Regions from separate parts of the Homo sapiens genome. Here regions 1 and 3 are each linked to region 2. Evidence: fine-mapped QTL for protein levels in blood plasma. A gene starts in region 2. Each other region holds a variant in brackets. All regions are shown on one strand. Distances are from middle to middle. Region 1 overlaps PPEF2 (protein phosphatase with EF-hand domain 2). Region 2 holds the start of CXCL11 (C-X-C motif chemokine ligand 11). Region 3 has its middle 6.8 kb from the start of ART3.

The links. PIP is the chance, under the fine-mapping model, that this variant and not a neighbour inherited with it causes the effect. The UK Biobank Pharma Proteomics Project read protein levels with antibody pairs (Olink). The fine-mapping took linkage between variants from a reference panel, not from the people measured, so its PIPs are less certain.
Region 1: its variant is fine-mapped to the plasma level of the CXCL11 protein (UK Biobank, PIP above 0.99).
Region 3: its variant is fine-mapped to the plasma level of the CXCL11 protein (UK Biobank, PIP 0.95).

What each region holds. Positions count from the first base shown.
Region 1 is chr4:75,885,663-75,893,947 of GRCh38, forward strand. PPEF2 (protein phosphatase with EF-hand domain 2) reads right to left here. Exons shown (of 17, transcript NM_006239.3): 3 at 6,189-6,316; 4 at 5,986-6,043; 5 at 4,295-4,470; 6 at 2,552-2,666; 7 at 1,190-1,236. LOC105377285 (a long non-coding RNA gene) reads left to right here. Exons shown (of 2, transcript XR_938895.3): 2 at 2,581-2,802. Among named protein-coding and RNA genes, the nearest start is that of PPEF2, 13 kb to the right of the region's middle. RefSeq lists a silencer at 314-608. The variant C/T (reference allele first, on the strand shown) is at 3,536.
Region 2 is chr4:76,031,713-76,039,988 of GRCh38, forward strand. CXCL11 (C-X-C motif chemokine ligand 11) reads right to left here and starts at 4,358. Exons shown (of 4, transcript NM_005409.5): 1 at 4,215-4,358; 2 at 3,504-3,630; 3 at 3,335-3,407; 4 at 1,970-3,104. The coding sequence starts at 4,275. The coding sequence ends at 3,081. It also overlaps a transcript of ART3 not described here and the pseudogene RPL36P8.
Region 3 is chr4:76,063,746-76,072,030 of GRCh38, forward strand. It overlaps a transcript of ART3 not described here. Among named protein-coding and RNA genes, the nearest start is that of ART3, 6.8 kb to the right of the region's middle. The variant GCAAA/G (reference allele first, on the strand shown) is at 3,702.

The DNA.
Region 1 (8,285 bases), 150 kb before region 2:
AGACCAGCCTGGCCAACATGGCCAAACCCCGTCTCTATAAAAAATATAAAAAATTAGTCCATCGTAGGCCAGGCGCGGTGGCTCACACCGGTAATCCCAGCACTTTGGGAGGCTGAGGCAGGTGGATCATGAGGTCAGGAGTTCGAGACCAGCCCGGCCAAGATGGTGAAACCCTGTCTCTACTAAAAATACAAAAATTAGCCGGGCGTGGTGGTGCACGCCTGTAGTCCCAGCTACTTGGGAGGCCGAGGCAGGAGAATCACTTGAACCTGGGACGCGGAGGTTGCAGTGAGCCGAGATCGTGCCATTGCATTCCAGCCTCGGCGAGAAGAGCGAAACTCTGTCTTAAAAAAAAAAAAATTAGGCCATTATGAGACAGGTTAGTTTTACCCTACTGATGATCTGTTGTTGCCATGGTAATCCTGCTCAGTACCAACCCGCAGGTTCAGACATTCGGTGTATGTGCTTGGCTAAGGAGCCAATGGGACAAAGCTACCCTCTGTGGGATTTTGACTGAATGCCTCTAAGTCAGAATCCCGCCCAGGCTGAACCACAGGGCAGCGCTGCAGGGCCTCAGTTGGCCTCGGATAGCCAGTCTCCCAATGGCCTGGGATAGCCAGTCTCCTGCCATCCCCGCCGGCCCGCAGTTCGGCTCAGCAAGCGCGCAGGTACCCGAGGCCGGTGCGGAGAGTCCCTCCTCCTGGGAAACCGGGTGCGGCCGGAAAGGCGGCCGCCCCTCACCCGTCATGCAACGGCACGTTCGTGGGGAACCTGACATTAAACTGTTCGTAGATGACCTGCTTCTGGGTCAGGATTTCGCACTGAGCAGAGCAGCTCCCTCGCTGTGATCTACTGAAAGTCAGCCCTCGACACAAGGGTTTGAAAAAGAAAAAGTGAAAAAAATAAAGAAATTAGGGCATGTTGGCATGCACTAGTGGTCCCAGCTACTCGGGAGGCTGAGGTGGGAGGATTGCTTGAACCTGGGAGGCAGAGGTTGCAGTGAGCCTAGATCGCACCACTGCACTCCAGCCTAGGTGGCAGATTGAGACCCCCATCTCAAAAAAATAAAAATAAATAATAATATTTTAAAACTTCAAGTAATATTTAAGCATTTGTTCAATTGATACTGAATTTGAGCTTCTAAATTAAGCTTCAGAGCAAGAAAGCAACTTAATTTGAACATTCATACCTTATAAAATATAAAGATTAAGTCATCCAATTGGCCATGTAAGTCTCCTAACAAAGATAGAAAAAGAATATCAATTCTGATTGTTCCTTACCAGTGCTTCTGATTTTTATTATAAGAAAGAAAATACCCAGAAGAATCTGACAGAAAAAACCCTACAAAGTTTTCCATATGTAAGATAAGGATAAATATTAATTTCTCCTTATTGCAGAGATAGTATTGAAAGCAGAAGGCATAATATTTTTTCTGCCGGATTATTATAAATAGTAAATGAGCTACATTTTTATTGAAGCAAAGATGCGATAGAATAGTGCAAGGTTGCAAACCTAGATGAGAACTGGAGAGATTTTGCCCACGTTAAACTAGAAAGCAGCTACTCACTTATGAGCCAGTGTTAAAAGATTTTTCAGGAGACTTTTAAAGCAAAATCTAGATCATAATATAAAATCCTCCAAATTTCCAATGTTGAAATACCATTTTTAAAAGTTTATGGGCCGGGCGGGTGGCTCACGCCTGTAATCCCAGCACTTTGGGAGGCTGAGACGGGCGGATCACGAGGTCAGGAGATAAAGACCATCCCGCCTAACACGGTGAAACCCCATCTCTACTAAAAATACAAAAAATTAGCCGGGCGTGGTGGCGGGCGCCTGTAGTCCCAGCTACTCGGGAGGCTGAGGCAGGAGAATCGTGTGAACCCGGGAGGCGGAGCTTGCAGTGAGCCGAGATTGCACCACTGCCCTCCAGCCTGGGCGACAGAGCGGGACTGTGTCTCAAAAAAAAAAAAAAAAAAAACTTTATGAACATTGCAAGGCAGGCAAGACCATCTGCAGGCTGCAGGTGACCCTAGCAGGGCCAGTTACAATCCCTCCTGCACTGGAGCCTCCACTAGGTTAAGGTGTGGGATGTCTGTCTACAGTGGATGTTAAAAATCACTGGAAACATAAGATGGGGAAAACAGTCATTAACAGGACTTCTTTCCAGGAGAGGAATGTGTGTGGATGGGAGGAATAATTTGCTAGTCATCGGGGCTTTCTCAAGTACCATTAAATAAACCATCTTCTAACAAGGAGGGTCTGGTTATTTGCAGAGATTTTGTTTTGAATGAAGAACATGAGTTTGAGTCAGTAGGAATTGCTTGGGAAAATAAAGCAGAGGCTGGGCCCTGAGGTCCATGATCCCCTTCGCTGCACCACCACCTCTTTTTTAGGTAAATGTGGAGTGAATATGCAAATTGTGGACCTGAAGGGGTTAAATTTGGCTTATCATCACATCTCCCTGCAGCCCGCCACTCCTCTTGCATCCCCACACAGGTAGAGCATTCTTCTTTGTGTGCAGCATGGAAAGCCGTTTCTGACCAGCTCTTACCACACACTGTGATCTCCTCACTGTAACAGGTTGAGACCCGGTTGATGTTTGGCAGCTGTACCAGATGTTTCTTGGTTTCATACAAAAGGTTCAAGACGTAGCGAGCATGGAGCTGCTACTGGGAGGAAGAGGAGGGAAGGAAGAAAACAACACTGATATTCGTGAGGGAAAATGGTCCTTACCTTTACTGCTTAACAACCCCCATCACCTAAGACCCCAAAAGTAACCCCAGTAAACTGCTCCTGGGACTATGCACGGATTCTTTCTTTATCACTCAACTTCTGCCCTTGTTTCTGCTTCTCATCATTCCCACTTGCCCCCCCTGCAAATATTGAGCTACTTTTCTCTTTCCTTTCTACTCTATTAAATGCTTCCTTGCCTTTAGCATGGGAAGACCATGTGATTGTTTCAGTAAAGTATGACTAAGTGCAGGTGTGTTGATGGTACTTAGTGATCCTGTCATTACTGGAATATATCAGCTCAGCTCCTCCTGCAATGAGTTACATTCATGTGGAAGAGGGGAAGGATTGAATTCTGATATAGAGCCAGAAGCTGACTATCTCGCTACCTCTACCCTACCATCAGAGTTCCAAGCCACTGTCATCTTTCGCTTGGACGATTGCAGTAGTCTCTTGACTGGTCACCCTACTTTGGCCCTTGCCGCCTACACTGTCTTAACACAGCAACCAGAATGATTATTTTAAAAAACAAGTCAGGGCTGGGTATGATGGCTCACGCCTGTAATCCCAGCACTTTGGGAGGCTGAGGTAGGCAGATCATGAGGTCAGGAGATCGAGACCATCCTGGCTAACATGGTGAAACTCCATCTCTACTAAAAATATAAAAAAATTAGCCGGGTGTGGTGGCGGGTGCCTGCAGTGGCAGTTACTCAGGAGGGTGAGGCAGGAGAGTCGCTTGAACCCAGGAAGCGGATGTTGCAGTGAGCCGAGATCGCGCCACTGTACTCCAGCCTGGATGACAGAG[C/T]GAGACTCTGTCTCAAAAAAACAAAACAAAAAAACAAGTCAGATTATGTCATTCCTATGTCTGCTGTCTCCCTGTCTCTTTTGGAAGAATAAAAGTCCACCCCCTCACCTCCATTACTCTTCCCCTGGCTCCCTCTTCTCCAGCCACAGTGGCCTCCCGAGGTTCGTGAACAGTCCAGGCAAGTTTCTGCTTCAGGGCTTTTCCATGTGTTCCTCCCTCTACCTGGAACGCTCTTTCTCCGGCGCATTCCTCACCACCTTAGATCTTTGCTCAGAAATCACCTTCCCAGACAACTCTATAAAATTGCTATTTCTTCCATCCATAACTTAGTTTATTCTTTTCCATAGCTCTCATCGCCTTCTAATATACTGCATAATTGTCTTATTTATTGTTATTTATTGTTCATTGTCTGCCTCCCCGATGGAATGCCAGCCCCATAAGGGCAGAGATTTTATCTGTTTTGTTCACTGCTGTATCCTCAGTGCCCAGAGCAATGTGGGGCACACAGCAGTGCTCAGTAGTTATGTGTGGGATGAATGAACAATGAGAGATTATGTGATTAGGAAGAAAAGCTGTCAATCATCAGAACTGGCTGATTGACTGCAAGGTCCTGGCTAAGCACAGCAGGGGTAGAATCTCTCTAGTGGACACATGACATGAACACCCTAAATCTGGGGCCATTCTTTCTGTGCTGGGTTTCGTCTCCCTTCACACATTTCATGGAGTTGGTAGTGACCCAGGTTCCCCAGGTGAGCTTACTTGTTTCAGTCTGAATGCTTCTACCAGGGCAGTTGCATGGTCAGGCAGGAGTGGGAAGGAGAGGCGTGGCCCCGTGTAACTGTCGGGTACCTCTATGGATTCATAGTCACTGCATTTCTTCATCTCGGAGTCCTGGGCGAATCTGTCCTCAGTGAATATGCGGGTCAGGAAGTCCCCTAGTCCAGATAGAAAAGGTGGATCAGCTTATGATCATCTGATCATGCAGTCTGTGGGCACTATAGAATAGTCCTTGGCTGGGCACGGTGGCTCTCTAATCCCAGAAATTTGCGGGGCCAAGGAGGGAGGATTGCTTGAGCCCAGGAGTTTGAGAACAGCCTAGGCAACATAGGGAAACCTTGCCTCTACAAAAAAAATTTAAAAATTTAGCCAGCCATGGTGTCACACACCTGTAGTTCCAGCTACTCAAGAGGCTGAGATGGGAGGATCACATAAGCCTGGGATGCAGAGGTTTCAATGAGCAGAGATGATACTACTGCACTCCAGCCTGAACGATAGAGTGAGACCCTGTCTCAAAAAAAAAAAAAAAAAGTCCTTCCCTGGACTATTGAAGCAGGACATGGTTAATCTGGCTTCAGCTTCAGCTCCAGCACAGAAGAGGAAAAAGGAAGGAGAAAGTGACAACAGTCTAGGATGGGCAGGAGGAAAAAGTCATGCTTTCTACTTTTATTCTAAAAGATCAAGATTTGTCAGACTTAGAGAGTACAGAAATTTAGGGACCTGGATTTGCAAGCAGAAGGAAAGGGGAAAGCCAGTGTGGAAAAATCACAGGTATTTATGTTGCATTTAGTGAGCGCAACAGGTGCATCAGACCTGGCAGTGCCTTCCAGCAGCTTCCAGCTGCCAGCATTGGCATCTCCAGACTGAGGACTTATTTCCTGGATCCGGATGGCAGGCCAGAAATGCTATGGAATTAACAACCTCCTGGCTTGGCTCAGTGGTTCACGCTTGTAATGCCAGCACTTTGGGAGGCCGAGGCAGGTGGATCGCTTGAGGCCAGGAGTTCAAGACCAGCCTGGTTAACATGGTGAAAGCCCATCTCTACTAAACATATAAAAAATCAGCCAGGTGTGTTGGTGCACACCTGTAATCCCAGCTACTTGGGTATCTGAGGTTCAATCACTTGAACCCGGGAGGTAGAGGTTGCAGTGAGCCAAGATCATGCCACTGCACTCCAGCCTGGGTCACAGAACGAGACTCTGTCTCAAAAAAAAAAAAGAAAAGAAAAGAAAAGAAAAAGCCTCCTTCCTATACTTCTCTCCCACCTCCCCAGCCGCTTTCAACCAATGACTCCTGGAGTTGACACAGAAAAACTCCAGTTCCCTTTGCCTGCAGGGGGTATAATTCTGAGGCTTGCGTTTTGCACTGTTTCCTAGGCACACTGAGTTGCTGGACTGGCTGCGATTCCTTTCCTGAATCCCTTCCCCACTCCCTCCCACCCCCAGGGTTTCTTGAACTTAATAAATGAATTCCTTGCGTCCAAACTCTTGTCTCCAGGTGTGTGTTCAGGAGAACCTGGCATAAAACCCCAGTCTGCCATTTACTCCTCAGCCCCTTGCTTATTCCCTGGCTGTCACCAGATTCACGGTTTCACTCCCTGTGCATCCCCCACCTCACCGTGTAATCTATGGCCTTGCGACAGGAGGACATGACATGTGGCAGTTCATACTCACTGTCGTTGTGGCTGCTGGGGATGAAGTGATCCATGAGATAGCTGAAGAAGTCATGGAGCTGCAGAAGAACCCAAGGAGACGTGGCTTTAGAGGTGAGCGAAAAGAGAACCCACAAGTAGTCCAGTTGGCCTCACTTTAGGAGCACCCGAGCCCTGCTGCCCAAGGGAGAGCAGGAGGCGGCTCCGTCCCACATCTCATTGTACCTTGACTTGGTCTTGCTGCCCAGCATATTCTATAGACTGGAAGATGCTCCAGGTGCAACGCCGCCTCATCTCCAGGCGGGCCACGTAGCGCCGGTACCATCTCTGGATCAGGGCTGCTGCCTTGAAGGCTATGACACCGATGGAGAAGCAAGCCTGTGAGCTCGGACTCCCTGGGCCAGGGGTTTGGGGGTAGGGAGAGGAAGCTGCTCAGCCCTCTCCCACTGTATATGTGAGGACAAGATGGAGCAGAAGCACTACCCATTGACGCCCATAGGAAGTATTTCCCTTTCTGCTGGCAATAGTGCTTTTCCCCATTTCCTGCCCCTCCCCTTCATTCCTGCCTGATGGTTATACTCATATCACTGTAGGTTGATTAGAATTCCCATGTATTGATGAAAACATTTCTGTATAGGGATGAAAAGGTTGGACTGCCAGGATTCCGAGAAGGAGATGTAAACTCATGAGATTGCAAGGATGCAGCATCCCTGACAGGTTATAATGCGGGGGTGGGGTGGACATTTTGATATTGTGACAATAGACTGGATGTCAGGACACCTGGGATCTAGACCTAGAACTGCCCTGACAAGCTCTGTGGTTTCAGACAAGTCATCTGGGGCCTCAATGTCCTCATCTGGAAAAGGGGCGGGGCCAGATGAAGACTAGGAAAAGCAAACAATAAACGAATACTCAAATGAATGCATCATACGATGTCAGGGGGTAGCAACTGTGTCCCAGCTCCCATGCTTGCCATCCCCAGTTCCATGATATCCCTACAGGCTTTAAGCACCCCCGTCATAAGATAGACAGCACTGACCATGCAGTCCCCCACATGGCCACTGGGCCTCTCATTTTTGCCAGGACCTGTGCTAGGTGACCAGGTAGGGCAGGTTAGGGTGTGGAGTTTCATTCTTTATATAAGGTTTAGGACCTGTGTGGTCAAGTATTGTTGCCAGAGAAGGGAACAGCTGTCCACATAACTAGATTCTTTTTAAGCTCCAAGGCTTAGATACACTGCTGGTGATGAATGGACTATTTGTGGATAAAGCTGGATTAGAAATCCTGCAGGCTGGATTAGAAATCCTGCAGGCTGACTCAGGTCAACCTCATAAAGAGTAGACAGATTGATTTAATATGTTTCGTTTGCATTAGACAGATAATAGAATTCTTGCTGATTTCCCTAAGAGGAAAGATGATGGTGACATGGGAAAAGAGAAGCTGGGAGGAACTTAAACAAAGATAAATTTGATTTCCTATGAAAAAAATTCATACTACTAGTATTTCTCAAAGGCACTCACTAAATAGTAAGCGATGAGGTTGAACCCCACTGACTGACTTCTGTAAAACCATGTTCAGAATAGTGAATGAGGCTGGGCGTGGTGGCTCACACCTATAATCCTAACACTTTGGGAGGCTGAGGCTGGTGGATCACCTGAGGTGAGGAGTTCAAGACCAGCCTGGCCAATATGGTGAAACCTCATCTCTACTAAAAATACAAAAATTAGCTGGGCATGGTGGCAGGCATCTGTAATCCCAGCTACTTGGGAGCCTGAGGTAGGAGAATCATTTGAACCTGGGAGGCAGAGGTTGCAGTGAGCCGAGATCGTACCACTGCACTTTAGCCTGGGCTAGAGACTCTGACACACACACACACACACACACTCACACACAAAAGAGAATAGTGAATGAAAGGTCCAGGGCTGGTGCTACAGATTCTTTAGAGATTCCTGGTAAACATGCAGGTTGCTACACCTCACCCTGGACCTGTAACATCAGAATCTCTACCGCTGGAATCCAGGAAGGAATCTGAAGGTTTAACAAGCTCCATACATAATTCATACTTGTGCTAAAGTTTAAGGACCACTGAAGAAGATCATGGACATCAATGTTGTCTGCTAACACCTTGCCCTGAGCATTCTATGGCCAGTGCTGCCAATGATGAGACATACGTATTACATCCTCAGTCTTGCTTTGGCTACTCAGGCAGCAGAAGTGGGCAACACCTTTCATTCTCCCTCTTTTTTTCTTCCTCCCGGTTGACTATCTGGTAGGGTGTGGTGGGGAGCTGGCTTGCTTTCAATTGAGATGGGCTCTGGGAAG
Region 2 (8,276 bases):
CCTTTTCCCTTAGTTTATATTGCCATTCAATAGGGTCTGATATGCACCAGAAACTGTACTGTTGGCCTGGGCTACAGCAGCTTTCTTTTACACTTATGAGAGAGCAGATATTAGGCACAGGAATAATTCATTAATTACAATTGCAGTAAGTAGTATGATGGAAAAATAGAGAGTGTTATGGAAATAAATAAATAGGACACCTAATCTAGTTAAAGCTGAAGTGGTGGTTTCAAAGGCTTCTTGGAGAAAAAGTCATTTAAGCTGAGACCTAAGCAATTAGTAGGCATTAGCTTAGTGAAGAAATGGGCAGAGAGAATAGTATGTGCAAAGGTACCAAGGTGGGGAGGATCTTGGCTCAAATATGTTAATTATTAATATTTCATATATTTATTTTGCTATGAAGAACTTTAGGTGTATGTTTTCTTCTCAGTAATAATGTACTGGCCTATAATATTTAATATACTTCTTACAAATACCAATTTATCATGCAGCCTTAACTCTGTGAATTTTTTTTTTTTTTGAGGCAGGCTTTTGCCCAGGCTGGAGTGCAGTGGTGTGATCACAGCTGACTGCAGCCTCAACCTCCCAGACCCAAGTGATCCATCCACCTCAGCTTCCCAAGTAGCTGAGGTTACAGGCATGTGCCACCATACCCAGCTAATTTTCCTATTTTTTATAGAGATGAATTTTCGCTATGTTGCCCAAGCTAGTCTTGAACTCCTGGGCTTAAGCCATTCACCTATGTTGGTCTCCCAAAGTGCTCAGATTATAGGTGTGAGCCACCATGCCCAGCTGACTATGTGAATTTTTATTTTTAAAGAGACTTAAAAAAAAAATCACTGTAAGTAGTCAAAGATTAGATTCAAGTCTTTTTTTTTTTTTTTTTTTTGAGGTGCAGTTTCACTCTTGTTGCCCAAGCTGGAATGCAATGGCATGATCTCAGCTCACTGCAACCTCTGCCTCCCGGGTTCAAGCGATTCTCCTGCCTCAGCTTCCTGAGTAGCTGGGATTACAGGCACGTGCCAGCAGCCTCGGCTAATTTTTTGCATTTTAAGTAGAAATGGGGTTTCACCATGTTAGCCATGCTGGTCTTGAACTCCTGACCTCAGGTGATCCGCCCGCTTCGGCCTCCCAAAGTGCTGGGATTACAGATGTGAGCCATCGCACCCAGCCAGATTCAGGTCTTAAAACTATCCAGGGAATTTATATGGAAGTCCCATCTCTATATAGATATTTATATAGATTTATATAACAATTTATTATAAATCTATATTGTATCTATAACCTATATAATAATGCAATATAGATATATCTGATTATAATCCTATAATAAATATTTTTATTTTTCAAATGTATGGGTGCCTATATAGAGAGTACTGCTATCAGTCAAGGCTTTTGGTTACATGCAGAGAAACCAACTCTGGCTATCTTAAGGAGAAAAAGAATTTAGTTGGAGGTTGAAGAATCCACAGGACAATGGAGAATAAGTCTTGGAAAATGGACAAAGACCTAAGGGAACTAGGTGATAGGAAGGACTAGCCAGAGTCATGCTACAGGAACACACATTGGGAAGACACTACTGTAAGACTTTCATTGTTTCTCCTGCTGCTGCCAGGCTTGAAATAATTTTCTTACTAATAGTATCTTTGTGATGCCAGCTGGAGTTCAAAGTCTAGGGTAGAAACAGCATGGCTGAGTCCTTGTTGTGGCTACAGGAGAGGATCTCCTGTCTTTGGCTTCTCTCTTTTGGCCTCCCACCAACACTCACATAAGGGATTTTCTCCAAGTAAGAAGGGGGTTTGGACTATCAAGACCCCCCAAGGCCGACAAAAGAAACAACTGTCTTTCCCACCTACCCATTAAAATATATTTCTAAACAGTTTTTCATGATGACGGATAGGTGTATGTTTCTGAAATATAAGGCAAAATTGTTAAAGGCATCTCAAATGTCCTGGAAAGTATATAGATCTTTTTTTAAAAAAGAAAGGTTGTGGTAGTTTATTAGAGAAAAAAATGACTTTGATTCTTTAAACTAGTCTTGAGTATACCTAAATTTTACAGTATATAGGCATGAACAAAGAAATTGATTAGATTATGTATTTTTCTAAGAGACAGAATTACAAAAAGTAAAAGTGATTGCTAGGTATACATTTGCTTATTTTTCAACATTTTTCTTTGGTAGACAAAAACATTTTGTATTTCAGATGTGTCCAAGATATTGCTATCATTTATACAAACGGATCAAAACAAAAAGTACAGTAAACACACATATCCTAATTGCTTCAAAACATCTCAATGAATAAAAGTTGAAAAACATCAAATTAAGACTGGTGCTACTAATTTGGTTATGAAATATGTGCACTTTTGCCAGTATCCCATAGCGTATAATTTTTTTCATAGTACATTTTATGAATTACATTTAATGAATTGGTTATAAAACAAACCAAATGATGCATAAGAATGTCTCCCTACATATTGATGTGCTACATGATGTTTGGGGAAAGAAGTGTGTATTTGCATGAAAAAATGTTTGAGGAATGTTTTACGACACATAGATGCTTTTGACTTATAAGGGCTTGACTCCAGTAATAATGTCAATGTCTCCACCGTAACCACAGATAGTAATATAGCATAAAGATCAATACAGACAGATGACTTCTAGAGACAGAAATGTTCTCATAGTCACAACAGAATAGTTGTAAGCATCAAATCTAGAAGGTTCTCTAGCCTAGAAATGCATGAATGTATAATGCAACAAGTAAGAACGTGAAAGCACTTTGTAAACTCCGATGGTAACCAGCCTTTCTTAAGGTAGCTTTTCCTAGAAATCCATTTAATTGTTGGACTCCTTTGGGCAGTGGAATTCTGATTGTCATTCATTCAGGAAGACTGTATTTCTGTTTTTGGTCCTTTCACCCACCTTTCATCCTTCACATAACTGTACAAAAGTTGAAAGTCACAAAACCATAGAAAAGTCTCAGTTTCCTACTGTAGAATTCTTGTCATTTCAGTAGTCACAGTTAAACTTGTTCTAGGTTTTTCAGATGCTCTTTTCCAGGACTTCATATGTTTTGATATTTTTAAAAATTCTTTCTTTCAACTTTCTGGAATAAGAAAACAAGAGTTTTATTTACTTGGGCTGTTCTTGTTTCCCCCAGGACATCTAAAAACATGTAGTAAGAAGGGGAAGCTGTTACAACCAAGGACCCCTTAACAGAATATTTCACACAGGATCATAGCAGAATCTTTCTGTAGTTGTCCACATTATTTTCTTTTTCAAAAGATCTGTCTTGGATAAAACAGATTATAACATGGGAGTAATTTGGTAACTTACTTTGATTATAAGCCTTGCTTGCTTCGATTTGGGATTTAGGCATCGTTGTCCTTTATTTTCTTTCAGGGTAATACTGTTAAAAGAACATACAAGAGTCTTAAAGTTTAGATGCAAATACATAAACAAAAAAGCCTGCACCATTGTCATCTTCAGCAAGTTCATTACTTACATCACTTCTATTTTGTCACAGTTGTTACTTGGGTACATTATGGAGGCTTTCTCAATATCTGCCACTTTCACTGCTTTTACCCCAGGGCCTATGCAAAGACAGCGTCCTCTTTTGAACATGGGGAAGCCTAGAATAGATCATAGCATTAGTTAGTAATGCATCTGATTGCAACAGATGGCTGTGGTTTATAGCTGGTGGTGAACGTGAGCAGAATTTTCATTAAGGGTAAAGATAGTAATTTGTCAAATAGCACTTAACACAACTGTTACTGGGAAAAGTTAAGTAAGATGTTGATTATTTTCTCATTAAATTAGTAAGCAAATCGCTAACAAATGGGAAGCATGAAGGAAGTTTATTGGAGGTGAAGCTTGTTTTGCCCCCTTGATTTTATCCTCAAATATTTTCCCAGGAAGCTTGTTAACATGATCGCTATATAAAATCTTCTTAACAGACATTTAAAACTGTTGCTAAAGGCTTTTGCCAGATATTCTAGCCAAATCAAAAATTCCATGAAGTTCATAATTTCTAGTTTCAATAATCATCTCTAGTATCTTAAACATGTCCACCATTTCTGTGCTAAAGCTGTAGTAACTTCTAATCTGTGAGATTAAATAAAACTTTATCATGTCTTTTAGGATAAAAGTGGAAGAAAAGACATTTGAAACATTAGAAAAGGAACTTATAGGTTGAGAAATAAAAATTACTGCATACCTTGAACAACTGTAGCACACAATATCACAGCCAAGGCTATAGCCATGCCCTTCACACTCATGTTTGTTTTTTGCTGTTGCTGCTGGTGCTGCTGCTGCTACTTCAGCTTTGCTGCTCTTCTTGGAAGGAGTAGAAATGCTGAACATGAAAGGAAATTGATAATTGGCATATATAGAGCATTTTATACACCAGCAATCCTTTTATGGCACAGGAATTTCCCTCTTTGAGTCATGCACCTTTCCTGCTTCCAAGAGTTTCTGTTTTGTTCTCTTCTAAATGTTACTGTCCCTTCCTATTTGCAGTAGTGTTGAAAGTGATAAGAATGTGAAAGCACTGTGAAAACCCAGATGGTAACCAGCCTTCTTAAGGTAGCTTTTCCTAGAAATCCATTTAATTGTCGGACTACTTTGGGCAGCGGAATTCTGATTGTCATTCATTCAGGAAGACTGTGTTTCTGTTTTTGGTCCTTTCACCCACCCTTCATCCTTCACATATCTATACAAAATAATATTCTGAAAAGCTTTTTTTTATTATCTCACTTTTGCTTTTCAGTCCAAACTCTTATAATAGATAAGGCCTATATTATTTGACACCAGATGACCTTTATTCAATTTCATATTTTTACCTGTAAATGAGTGCCTAAAGAAGTTTCCCTGTGTTTCTGTATTTATGTCCATATTGTTTTGCATTTTCAACAATTTTTACTTTATATATTTTATTTTGTTTTGCTTTATTTTATTTTTAAATTTAATTTAATTTTATTACTTTATTTTATATTTATTTTATTCTGCAAAGCTTTCATTATAGGCAGATGGCAGGGGGCTCAGTCCTTCTTGGCAGCTGCTTTCCTCATGGCAGCCAGGACGTTGCTCAGCTCCTCCTGCCTTCTCTTGGTGCAGATGTTTGTCCCTACCCTTTTCTTGATGAATTTGAGGGCCTGTTTGACCTTGGAGACCTTCAGTAACTCCATGCCACGCCACTCGTTAGGGGTGAAGCCACACACCTCTGGGATCATGTCCCACACAAATTTAGTGAGTTTGGTCAGGCGCCCACAGTGGCTGTGCCTGGGCTTGCTCACATTCTTGGTCACCTTGTGGCCCTTGTTGAGGCCCACAGCTATAGGGTAGTGCAGTGTCATGGCTGCTGCCCTCCAATGGTGGCCATGGTGGAAAGCTACTTTATATATATTTTAGCACTGTTACTTAGTACATGAAGTTGTATGAGTTGTATTAGGGATCATAAAAAAAAGTGATCCTCTTTGCTCATGTGATAGTTTTACCTCTGAGATTCTACTTTGATGTAATTCCTATTTTTTTGTCTTTATCTTTTCCTCTTAAGCTTCCTAAATCTTTGTTTTAAGTGTGTCACTTGTAGATGTTTAAGAAAATCATATCAAAGGAGCTTTCTAATGGGTAAGCTTAATAAAATATATTTACTGTATAACTGGTAATCTGTAATTTTTAAAATGCTTCCTTGCTGATTCTTTATGTTTTCTTTGATTTCTTTCTAACTTTAAATATATTTTATTTAACTTTTTGAAGCCATTTTTGTTTTTTTTAATGAGATGGGTCTCACTCTGTCACCATTCTGGAGTCGAGTGGCACAATCATAGCTCACTGCAGCCATGAACTCCAGGCCTCAAGCAATCCTCCTGCCTTGGTCTCCCAAAGTGCTAGGATTACTGGGATGAGCCACGGTGCTTGGCCTTCCTTAAGTAATTTGAAAGGAATACATTGTTTTACATTTTGATATTAATTCTTAAAATTCTTTAAAAAGATTTTTACCTGAATTTTTCTAATTATTTACATCAACCATCAATAATATTTTTTTAGCTCCTGTCTTTGTAACATGAGAAAATCACTGTAACTTTCTTTCAAGAATTTTCTCCTATTTCCTAGTTTTACCAATAAAAGTTGGTATAATCGGGGAATTTATAGCCAGTTTATTACTTTTAGATTATTATTTTATCTTATTCAACTTCTTTTTTTGAGAATTATCATTTGCATTTTATCTTGAAATTATATATTTATTTAGATATAATCCTGCATTTAAATTCTTTAACAACCATGACTAGTCTTTAAAACCTTTGAAAGTCTTTACAGTAGTCCCCCATTAAATGAGAAATTCTAGAAATAATTCATAAGTTTTAAATTGTGCACTTTTCTGAGTAGCATGATGAAATCTCACATCATCTTGCTCCATCACTTCATCCCATCACATAGACATTTTATCATTTCACAGCATCACTAGAAGAGTGAGTATAGTACAATAAGATATTTGAAGAGAGAGAGACTACACAGTCACTTAACTTTTATTACAGAATATTGTTGTAATTATTCTATATATTAATGTTGATGCTCTTACTGTGGCTAATTTATAAATCAAACTTTTTTATAGGTATATATGTACAGGAAAAAATACAATATATACAGGGCTCAGTACTATCTGCAGTTTCAGGCACTCATTGGGGGTCTTGGAACATATCCCCCAAGGATAAGGTGAGGGGGCTACTGTATTTTAATTAATTTCCAAGTAGCTGGAATATTCTTTCCTTCTTTTCCATTAATTCATTTAACATATGTAAAGAAAGACTAATTTTCCCTCAGGAATATGGGTAAAGTAAAAGGAATGTGTTCTTGGAGCTCATAAATCCTTATCTGTTATTATTTTTTAATGTTGCTTTTCATTTTCTCAGCATTAGAAACACAGTAGAGCATAGTTGTTAATAGGGAAGGCTCTAGAGTCAGCCTGTGTTCAAATCCACCCTTGATTATTTATTTATTTATTTATTTATTTATTTATTTATTTATCTTTGAGATGGATTCTTGCTCTGTAGCCCAGGCTGGAGTGCAGTGGTGTGATCTCGACTCACCACAGCCTCTGCCTCCTGGATTCAAGTGATTCGCCTGCCTCAGCCTCCCAAGTAGCTGGGATTACAGGTGCGTGCCTCCATGCCTGGCTAATTTTTATAGTTTTAGTAGAGATGGTGTTTAGCCATGTTGGCCAAGCTGGTCTTGAACTCCTAACCTCAGGTGATCCTGCCGCCTTGGCCTCCCAAAGTGCTGGGATTACAGGCGTGAGCCACTGTGCCCAGCCCACATTCAGTTATTTATGAACAAGTTACCTCAACTTTTTGAGGCTATTTTCTCATCTATAGACTGGGGATAATAATAGTACTTTTTTTTTTTTTTGAGATGGAGTCTCTCTGTGCCACCCAGGCTGGAGTGCAGTGGCATGATCTCGGCTTACTGCAACCTCCGCCTCCTGGGTTCAAGCGATTTTCTTGCCTCAGCCTCCCAAGTAGCTGGGATTACAGGCATGTGTTACCACGCCCAGCCAATTTTTGTATTTTTAGTAGAGATGGGGTTTTACCATGTTGGCCAGGCTGGTCTCAGACCCCTTTTTCATAGGGCTGTTATAAACTAGGTATTAAAAGAGGTAATGCATATTAATCATTTAGAAAAATATGTAGCACTCAAAATGTATTAACTGCTATTATTATTATCAGTGTCCTTTCCTGAATTGGCATACCACATCTAGCTTGTTTTCAGCTGTTTTTCAGCATTAACACAAACACAACCACTTAATAAAAGATGAGTTGACATTGTTATAGCATATAAAAATATTTTAAATTATAATAACCATGAATATAAAAATAGCATACTAATCATAAAAATCACTTACAGAAAGTGCATGAATGCAATAGCATAGTTCAAATAATATAGACAAACAATAGTGAATATTTCTGCTTACTAGCTAAAGTGTTGTCATATAGCTTTGGTGTAAGACAATTTCTTAAATAGGGATTCTTAATTTTTTTAAAAAGACCCTGGAAATTATTAAACATATTTTTACATTATACTATTTTAAATAGAAAATAGACATAATTCAAATTTACATAAAACAAGACTAAACTCTTCCTTTTGCCTTCATGTGTGAATTACTACTTAGCTGTGTAGAAAAACTGTGGATCACAATTTTCTCCTTCAGTACTCTGCTGGGAGTCTTGGAATGTATCCCCCAAGGATAACAAGGGGACTACTGTATTTTATTTTCTATTGT
Region 3 (8,285 bases), 32 kb after region 2:
TAAAACAATGATAGTGAAAAATAGAATAATTTTGGCACTAAACATTGAATTTATACAAATCTTTTAGAGTTTCATGTATTATACAAAGTTCTGAGGAAAAATTATTTTGAACCTAGAATTATATACTAGCCAACTGTTCATCAGATTCACATTTCAAAAATGAAAGCACTGAAAATGTTTATCTTCCATGCATCCTTTTTAAGGAAATAATTTCAGAATATATTCCTACAAAACAAAGATAAATATGAAGCAAAAAGCTGTAGATGCAGTAGCATGAGACAAAAAATAAATTAAAAAAATAAAACCACTGTAGAGTACAAGAAATGGAAAAAGTACCCAGGGATTCAATTGAAAGATTTTCTAGTCTCCTAGTTGTTGGCCTGGAGAGCAGTTTGTCCAGGTTAGAACTGGTCTTCAAGAATAAGAACAAAATGGATTCCAAGCAATAGAATTGGAAATAGAAGCACATTAGGTACACGATGGAGACAAATACTACTTTTCCCAACAACCACCATGATCACCACTACCATCACCACCAAAAAAGGCACTCAGAAACTAAAGGAAAAATAAAAAATTTTAGTGATCTAAATACAAAAGAGACAAAAGTGAGGCATGATTTTAAGGGATTAGTGGAGTATGGGAAAGGAATATTCATTTGATCTTGACATAAAAATGTTTTGTTTTGAGTGTGAATAGTGATCATGACATTGAAACAGCAGAGATGGAAATAAAATCCTAACTTGTGTCTTGTCTTTATACTAAAGAATATATAGCTGGTTGCAATAAACTTGCAGTAAACTATACTTTTGATTTTTAATTTTAGAATAGACCTTTACTTAAAGCATGGCTACAGAACAAAAAGCAAATGTTATTACATTTTGACAACATAAAGATAAAAGAACTACTGATGGAAGCTGGGAGGTGAAAGGCAGAAAGGAGGTGAAGGGAAGGGTAACAGTGCTAACGTCCTCTTATTACAAAATGAGTACCAAAAAGAGAATATTGAAAGTGGATGCTTTAAAATATACTAACAATATTGCTTCAATTATCAGTGTTGGTAGAAAGATGGGAGTTGGAATATTGAGTAAATTTTTTTTTTTTTTTGAGACAGGGTCTCACTCTGTCACCCAGGCTGGAGTGCGGTGGCAAGATCATGGGTCACAGCAACCTCCACCTTCCAGGTTCAAGCGATTCTCCTGCCTCAGCGTCCTGAGTAGCTGGGATTACAGGCACCTGCCACCATGCCTGGCTAATTTTTGTATTTTTAGTAGAGACGAGGTTTCACCATGTTGGCCAGGCTGGTCTCGAACTCCTGAGCTCAAGTGATCTGCCCACCTTGGCCTCCCAAAGTGCTGGGATCACAGGCGTGAGTAATGGTAGCCATAGTGGTGGTGAGTTCAATCAAGGAGGAAGTGTTTGCAAAGCAAAAATTGTGAGGTGCACTTCTTAACACCACAAAGTTCAAAAACAAACAATTACAAATATGGCGAGCTCACTGAGTGCTTTTGTACTGAATCATTTAATCTTGTGCATTTGTATTATTATTGTATACTTTTGGAATTTTTATTATACAATAATTGGTGTTCATTCATTCATTTCCAAACCTGTTCACTTAACATGCCGATCTTTGGGATGTGGGAGGAAACCAGAGTCCCTGGAGAAACCCACACAGACATGGGGAGAATGTACAAACTCCACATAGACAGTAGTCCTGGCTGAGAATCAGGTTTTTTTCTCATTAATGGTATAATGAAATGGCCTTATTCAAGGACCTCCTGAACCTCCCACACTCTGATATAACCCTCCAACACACACACACACACACACACACACTCGTTGAAATCATTACCATAGAGACTCCTTGTCCTTGATAAGAATGTGTCTCTCTCACTGAAATAGGGGGAAAGAAAGTTGAGAATTAAAGCCTAGAGGCCTAAAATCTACCAATAGGATTTGTCCACAAATATAATATTACATTATAATAATATATACATATATGAATATGTTGTATTATATAACATCAATATATTAAATATAATAAAGCAATCTAATCATTATATATTGAATGGTGTAGGGATAATACGCATTATTTTGAAAATACTAAATAGATATATGTTTCATTCCCTTTATAAAGTCTGTCTGTACTCTGTAACCTTTAAGATTATCCTTAGTAGTCTGAAGGAAGGAAAAGGTTGATAATGCCAGAATAAGAAGTACATAGGATAAAGGTGAAAGAAATAGCACATAGGAAGCAATGCCTAACAGGAATTGGGAGTGGAAGACCTGATTCTAGAACAGAGAAAAGGAGAAAAGAGAATTCAGACTCCTGTGGCTCCTCTGGACTGAAACCCTAGAAAGCATTGATGTAGGGGTTTAGAAACACCCTAGTAATTTTCAGGGAATCTTTTAGCAGCAGAGATTTTTTCTTTTCATACTTCTCCTTGTGTTATAGGATCTTTGGGGTGTTGATTTTCTTCCCCTGTAAACCTCTGTTGCCAGTGGGGCCTTTGCCCCATTTCTTGTCCTGCGTCCAGGAAGAATGAGGTATGCAGACAAATGAAGGGTGAGGAAGAAGAAGAGGAGATTTATTTAGTGCTGTAACTGCTCAGAAGGAGACCCACAGTGGGTAGCTCCCCTCTGTGGGCAGGCAGGTCGTCTGTCAAGTGTTCAGCTCTCAACAGAGAGGAGGCCCTGGAGATGGCAGCTTCTCTCTGCTCGCTGGTCATCCTGAGGTCTGCTTTTCTCTGCAGGCAGGTCATTCGGCAGTCTCTGCAGATCTCTGAAGCTATTAGCAGAGAGCGTAATTAGCAGAGAGGGTAGCTCCTCTCTGCTGCTGGTCATCCCATCTTCTGCTCAGCTCTGGCTGAGCCCGGCTATTTATGGACCTCAGAGGGGAGGAAGTGCACACTGGTTGGCCCATGGGTGGTCATGGGCAGGCCTGGAAAAGGCACCAGTGTCCACTCCAGTCAGTGGAACTGGCAGCCTGGGCCCCAGCCTTCAGGCCCTCCCTGACCTGACAGAAGGACCTTACTGGAGACCCACCCCCTTCCACGTGGGACTCTGCCTCCTACTACTCATGACGCCCAGGCTCAGCCTGACTTTGCTCCAAGATTGGAGCAGGAGCCAACAGCAGGGAGAAGCCAAGCAGTGGGAGCAGGCACTTTTAAGCTTGTGAGGGCAGGGGGGCCTTCCCAGGCCCCCAAGAGTGCAGGGATACCTGAGTCTGCTGCCATAGTTTGGGCAGTTGCACCCCTGCCCAGGAGGGCAGGGCTCCTGCCTGCTCTGTGGAACAGGCAGCCCTGGCCACACCTTCCTGCCACAGCTGGGATGATGGCAGGCCAACTGGAGTGGCTGCCACCATCACTTGGGCAAACTGGAGAATTTTTAAGGTCTCTTAGAAAAAGCATTATATTTAACAAGTTGAACATAACAAAGTAGCAGAATGAGTTGGGAAAGGACAAAAGATTCTCTCCAGTTTTCTAAAATCAAAGTTGTCATGATAGAATTCCTAGGTTTCCCTTTGGGCTTAGGGAAGGTAACTGGGGTACAAACCAGTTTATGATCTTCTTTAAGAAGATGCCCGCCAAGGGCAAAGGAGTGCATCTTGAGTTTGTGGGAGGCCCACCGAACAGGGTGAAAGGACATAGAAATTGTTTGTCTTTAGAATGCCCAATGCCAGGAGGCTACGATGGGGGAATTTA[GCAAA/G]CATTTTCCCAAAATCTATAAAAAAACACTAAATTACTGAGCTAGCAATTAAATGTCACCATTGCTGGAGACCAGACTAACAGCTAGAACTAACAGAGAACAGAGAACAAACTACAATTTTTCCCAGTGTCAGTATGTCATAGTGTGAGGAATCATGTGCAAAAAGGAATATGTATTTCTCTTTATTGGAAATCAACGTAGTTCACAAACCCCCATGTAAAACACTAATCTTGTCAGTTAAAATTTGGTAACAGTAAAAACACTTAATCTTGTCAATTAAAATTTAGTCACTTCAAAGTTGAAAGTTTTCTTTGAATAAATATTTAAATTCAGAGTTCTTTTTCTTCCTAAGAGCAGTGGCCTGCCATTGAAGAAATATCTTGTTCTGGTGCTGACCTCTAGCGGTCATTGGCCTTCCCCGAGGTATCTGATCCTGCTTGGTCTTTGGCTGATAGAAATTTGCACTCACCACTGTAATGTTGTGCCTTGGCATCCAGTCTCTAAAATATAAATACCTTGTATTTATCTTACCACAACCCTAGGCTCCTTTGACTCACCTAGTTCTCTTTCCTCATCATTCATGGGCCATTGCATTACAGATACTTTACTGTGGTAGTCTTCAAATTGGGATACATATATATCTGGGGGTACACAAATTTCAGGGAGTATGTAGGCAAGATAGTTTTTGTTGTTGTTTGTTAAAATTTGCCTTATTTAGGTATGACTTATGTAAATAAAATTCACAAATTTGAAGTGTACAGTTCTGTGACTTTTGACAAATGTATATCATCATGTAACATCTACTACAATCATGATATAAAACATTTCATCACCCAAAAAATGTGTTCCCTCATGCCCATATTGTGGCATGTATTAATAGTTTATTCTTTTTCAAAGCATGTTTATTGAGATACAATTCACATACAATACCATTCATTAAGGAAGACTGGATAAAGAAAATGTGGTACATATATACCATGTAATACTATGCAGCCATAAAAAAGAATGAGATTATGTCCTCTACAGGAACATGGATGAAGCTAGAGGCCATTATCCTTAGCAAACTCATGCGGGAACAGAAAACCAAATATCACATGTTACCACTTGTAAGTGGAAGCCAAATCATGAGAACACATGGACACAAAGGGGGGACCAACAGGCAGTGGGGCCTACTTGAGGGTGGAGGGTGGGAAGGGGAAGAGGATAGAGGATAAAAAAAAAAATAACTGTTGTGTACTAGGCTTAGTACTTGGGTGATGAAGTAATGGGTACAACAAACCCCTCTGACACGAGTTTACCTATATAACAAACCTACACATGTACCCTTGAGCCTAAAATAAAAGTTTAAAAGAAAAAAAATTCATTCATGTAAAGTATTCACTTGTATGGGTTTTGTTTTTGTTTTTGTTTTTAAGAAATGAGGTCTCACTGTGTTGCCCCAGTGGCATTGAACTCCTAGGCTCAAGTGATCCTCCTTTAGCTACTCCAACCACTGTGCATGGCTTAAATAGTTTTTATTGTGTGTACAGATTTGTGCAACCATCACTGCAATCATTTTTAGAACTACTGATACATGCAACAACATTGATAGATTTCATAGTGTTATGCTAAGAAGTTAGTCATAAAAAATTACATACTGACTGTATGATAATAGTTAACATGTCATGCTGGGAAAGGCAAAACTGGTGACAGGAAGAAGATCAGTGACTTCCAGAGCCTTGGGTGAAGGGAGGAGATTGACTACAAAGGACATGTGGTGACTTTTTTGGGGAGATGAAATGTTTTCATTACTCTAAAAAGAAGCCTAGTACGCATTAACAGTCTTCCTCATTTCCCCATTATACGTCCAGCCCTAAAAAAATCAATAATCTACTTTCTGTCTGTATAGATCTGTCTACTCTGGACATTTCATGTAAATGTATCAGTACTTAATTCCTTTTTTTTTTTTTTTTTTTTTGAGACACAGTCTGTCTCTATCACCCAGGCTGGAGTGCGGTGGCACTATCTCAGCTCACTGCAACCTTCACCTTCCGGGTTCAAGCGATTTTCCTGCCTCAGACTCCCTAATGGCTGGGATTACAGGCACGCGCCACCACACTTGGCTAATTTTTGTATTTTTAGTAGATACACGGTTTCACCATGTTAGCCAGGCCAGTCTCGAACTCCTGATCTCAAGTGATCCGCCTGCCTTGGCCTCCCAAAGTCCTGGGATTACAGGCATGAGCCACTGCATCCGGCCTTAATTCCTTTTTATTGTGGAATAATATTCCAGTGTGTGGGTATATCACAGTTTGTATATCCATTTACTAGTTGGTGGACATTTGGACTGAAATCTAGACCACTTTTTGACTATTATATTTATAGATATATTTATATTTATATTATATTATAGATAATACTGCTATGAACATTTGTGCACAAGTGATTGTGTGCACATATAACATACCCAAGATGTAGGCCTCAGAGTGGAATTTCTGGATCTTGGGCATATACCCAAGATATATGCCTAGGAGTGGGGAAATTTCTGGATCATGTAGTAACCCTATGTTTAACATTTTGAGGACATTTGTTCCTTTTTATTGCTGAGTGTTATTTCATTTGTTTATCCATTTACCAGTTGATGACATTTGGGTTGTTTCTACCTTTTGACTATTATGAATCAACCTGCTGTGAACATTTGACAGGTGTGAACATACACTTTAATAATTTCTTTTAAGTATAATGAATTCCTGTTCTTTTAAGTATAATGAATTCCTGTAAGTAGAATTACGGGGTCATATGGTAAATATATAAGTTTAACTTTATGAAAACTGCCAAATTGTTTAAAAAATAGCTGTATCATCTTGCATTCCCATCAGTAATGTATGAAAGTTTCAGTAGCTCCATATTCTCATCAACATTTTATGTTGTTAGTCTTTAATTTTAGCCATTCTAGTGGATGTATAGTGGTTTTAATTTGCATTTACCTGATGCTAATAATGTTGAACATCGTTTTCTACTTGTTTGTCATTTATATATCTTCCTTTGTGAAGTGTCAGTTCAGATCTTTTGCCCGTAATCATTCAATAAAATAATCATTTTATCCTTGCTTGAAAAAGCTACAGTCTTTATTCAATCCAATTTAGCTTAGTCTGCATCTACCATGGAACTGAACGTAGCTGGAGAAAAATACAACCATCTTAAGTGATTTCATTTTAAATTCAGGTAGCCCCTTAATGCAGCCCAGCAATCATAAGGCATTCACTCTTCTCCTTTTCTAGATGACTATTTCATTCTTTCTCCAATTTCTTCAAGTCTCTGTCACTTAAACCATCATCTTTTGTTACTACTTTTTTGAGAAAATTGAAGCAAGTAGAAAAGAATTTTTATTGCAACCCACTTCTTTCCAGCATCTGCCAATATACTGTGCCTTTCCTCCTGTTCATATTAGATGAACCTCTCCTGCTCTTATCTAAGGCCACCTCATCTGCTTGTATGCTATGTCTCATCCCCTTTTGCCTACTCAAGAAGATTGACCCAATCATTCTACCCTCTCTTTGCTATATTATTAGTTTTTTCCTCTATCTACTAGATCATATCCAACATGCTGGTTTTTTTCTGTCTTTAAAAATATTTCTGACCAAGCACAGTGGCTCATGCCTATAATCTCAGCACTTTGGAAGGCCAAGGCAGGCGGATCATTTGAGGCCAAGAATTCAAGACCAGCCTGGCCAACATGGTGAAACCCCGTCTCTAGTAAAAATACAAAAATTAGCCAGGCTTGGTAGTGGGCAGCTACTCTGGAATCTGAGGCAGGAGAATCGCTTGAACTGGGGAGGCAGAGGCTGCAGTGAGCCGAGATAGGGAGGCGGAGGCTGCAGTGAGCTGAGATCGTGCCACTGCACTCCAGCCTGTGTGACAGAGCGAGACTCCATCTCAAAAAAAAAAAAAAAATTCTTGGACTCTCTTCTTTACCTTTTCCCTGGTCCCACCATCAAGCTATACTGCCTCATTCCTTTTATGTCCTTTATAGAAAAACTCCTTGAAAGAGTTGAAGATATTAACCATCTCCAATGTCTCCAATTCCTCTTTTCATTCTTTCTTAGGCCATTCTAACCAGGCTTTCATCTCCACTCTTCTATCAGACCTGCTCTTAAACAAAACTTTCAATATCCTCCACATTGCTAAATCCAATGGTCAGTTCTCAGTCCTCATCTTACTTGACCTATCAGAAGCTTTTAACACATTTGATCTTTCCTTTCTTTTGTAAGTATTTTCTTCACTTGAGTTCCAGGATACTTTTTCCACACACGGTCTTCTCCATGTCAATCAATGACAACTCCATCCTTCCAGCTATTCAAGCTAAAAATCTTGGAACTATTCTTTACTCCCCTCTTTTTCTTGCAGCCCACATCTAGTTTGTCAGTACATCCTATTGCCTCAATCTTCAAATTATATCCTGCATTTAAGTCTAAACATTTTTTTTTGTTTTTGTTTTTGTTTTTGAGACAGGGTCTTACTCTGTTGACCAGGCTGGGGTGCAGTGGCACCATCATAGCTCACTGTAATCTGCAACTCCTGGGCTCAAGAGATCTTCCTGT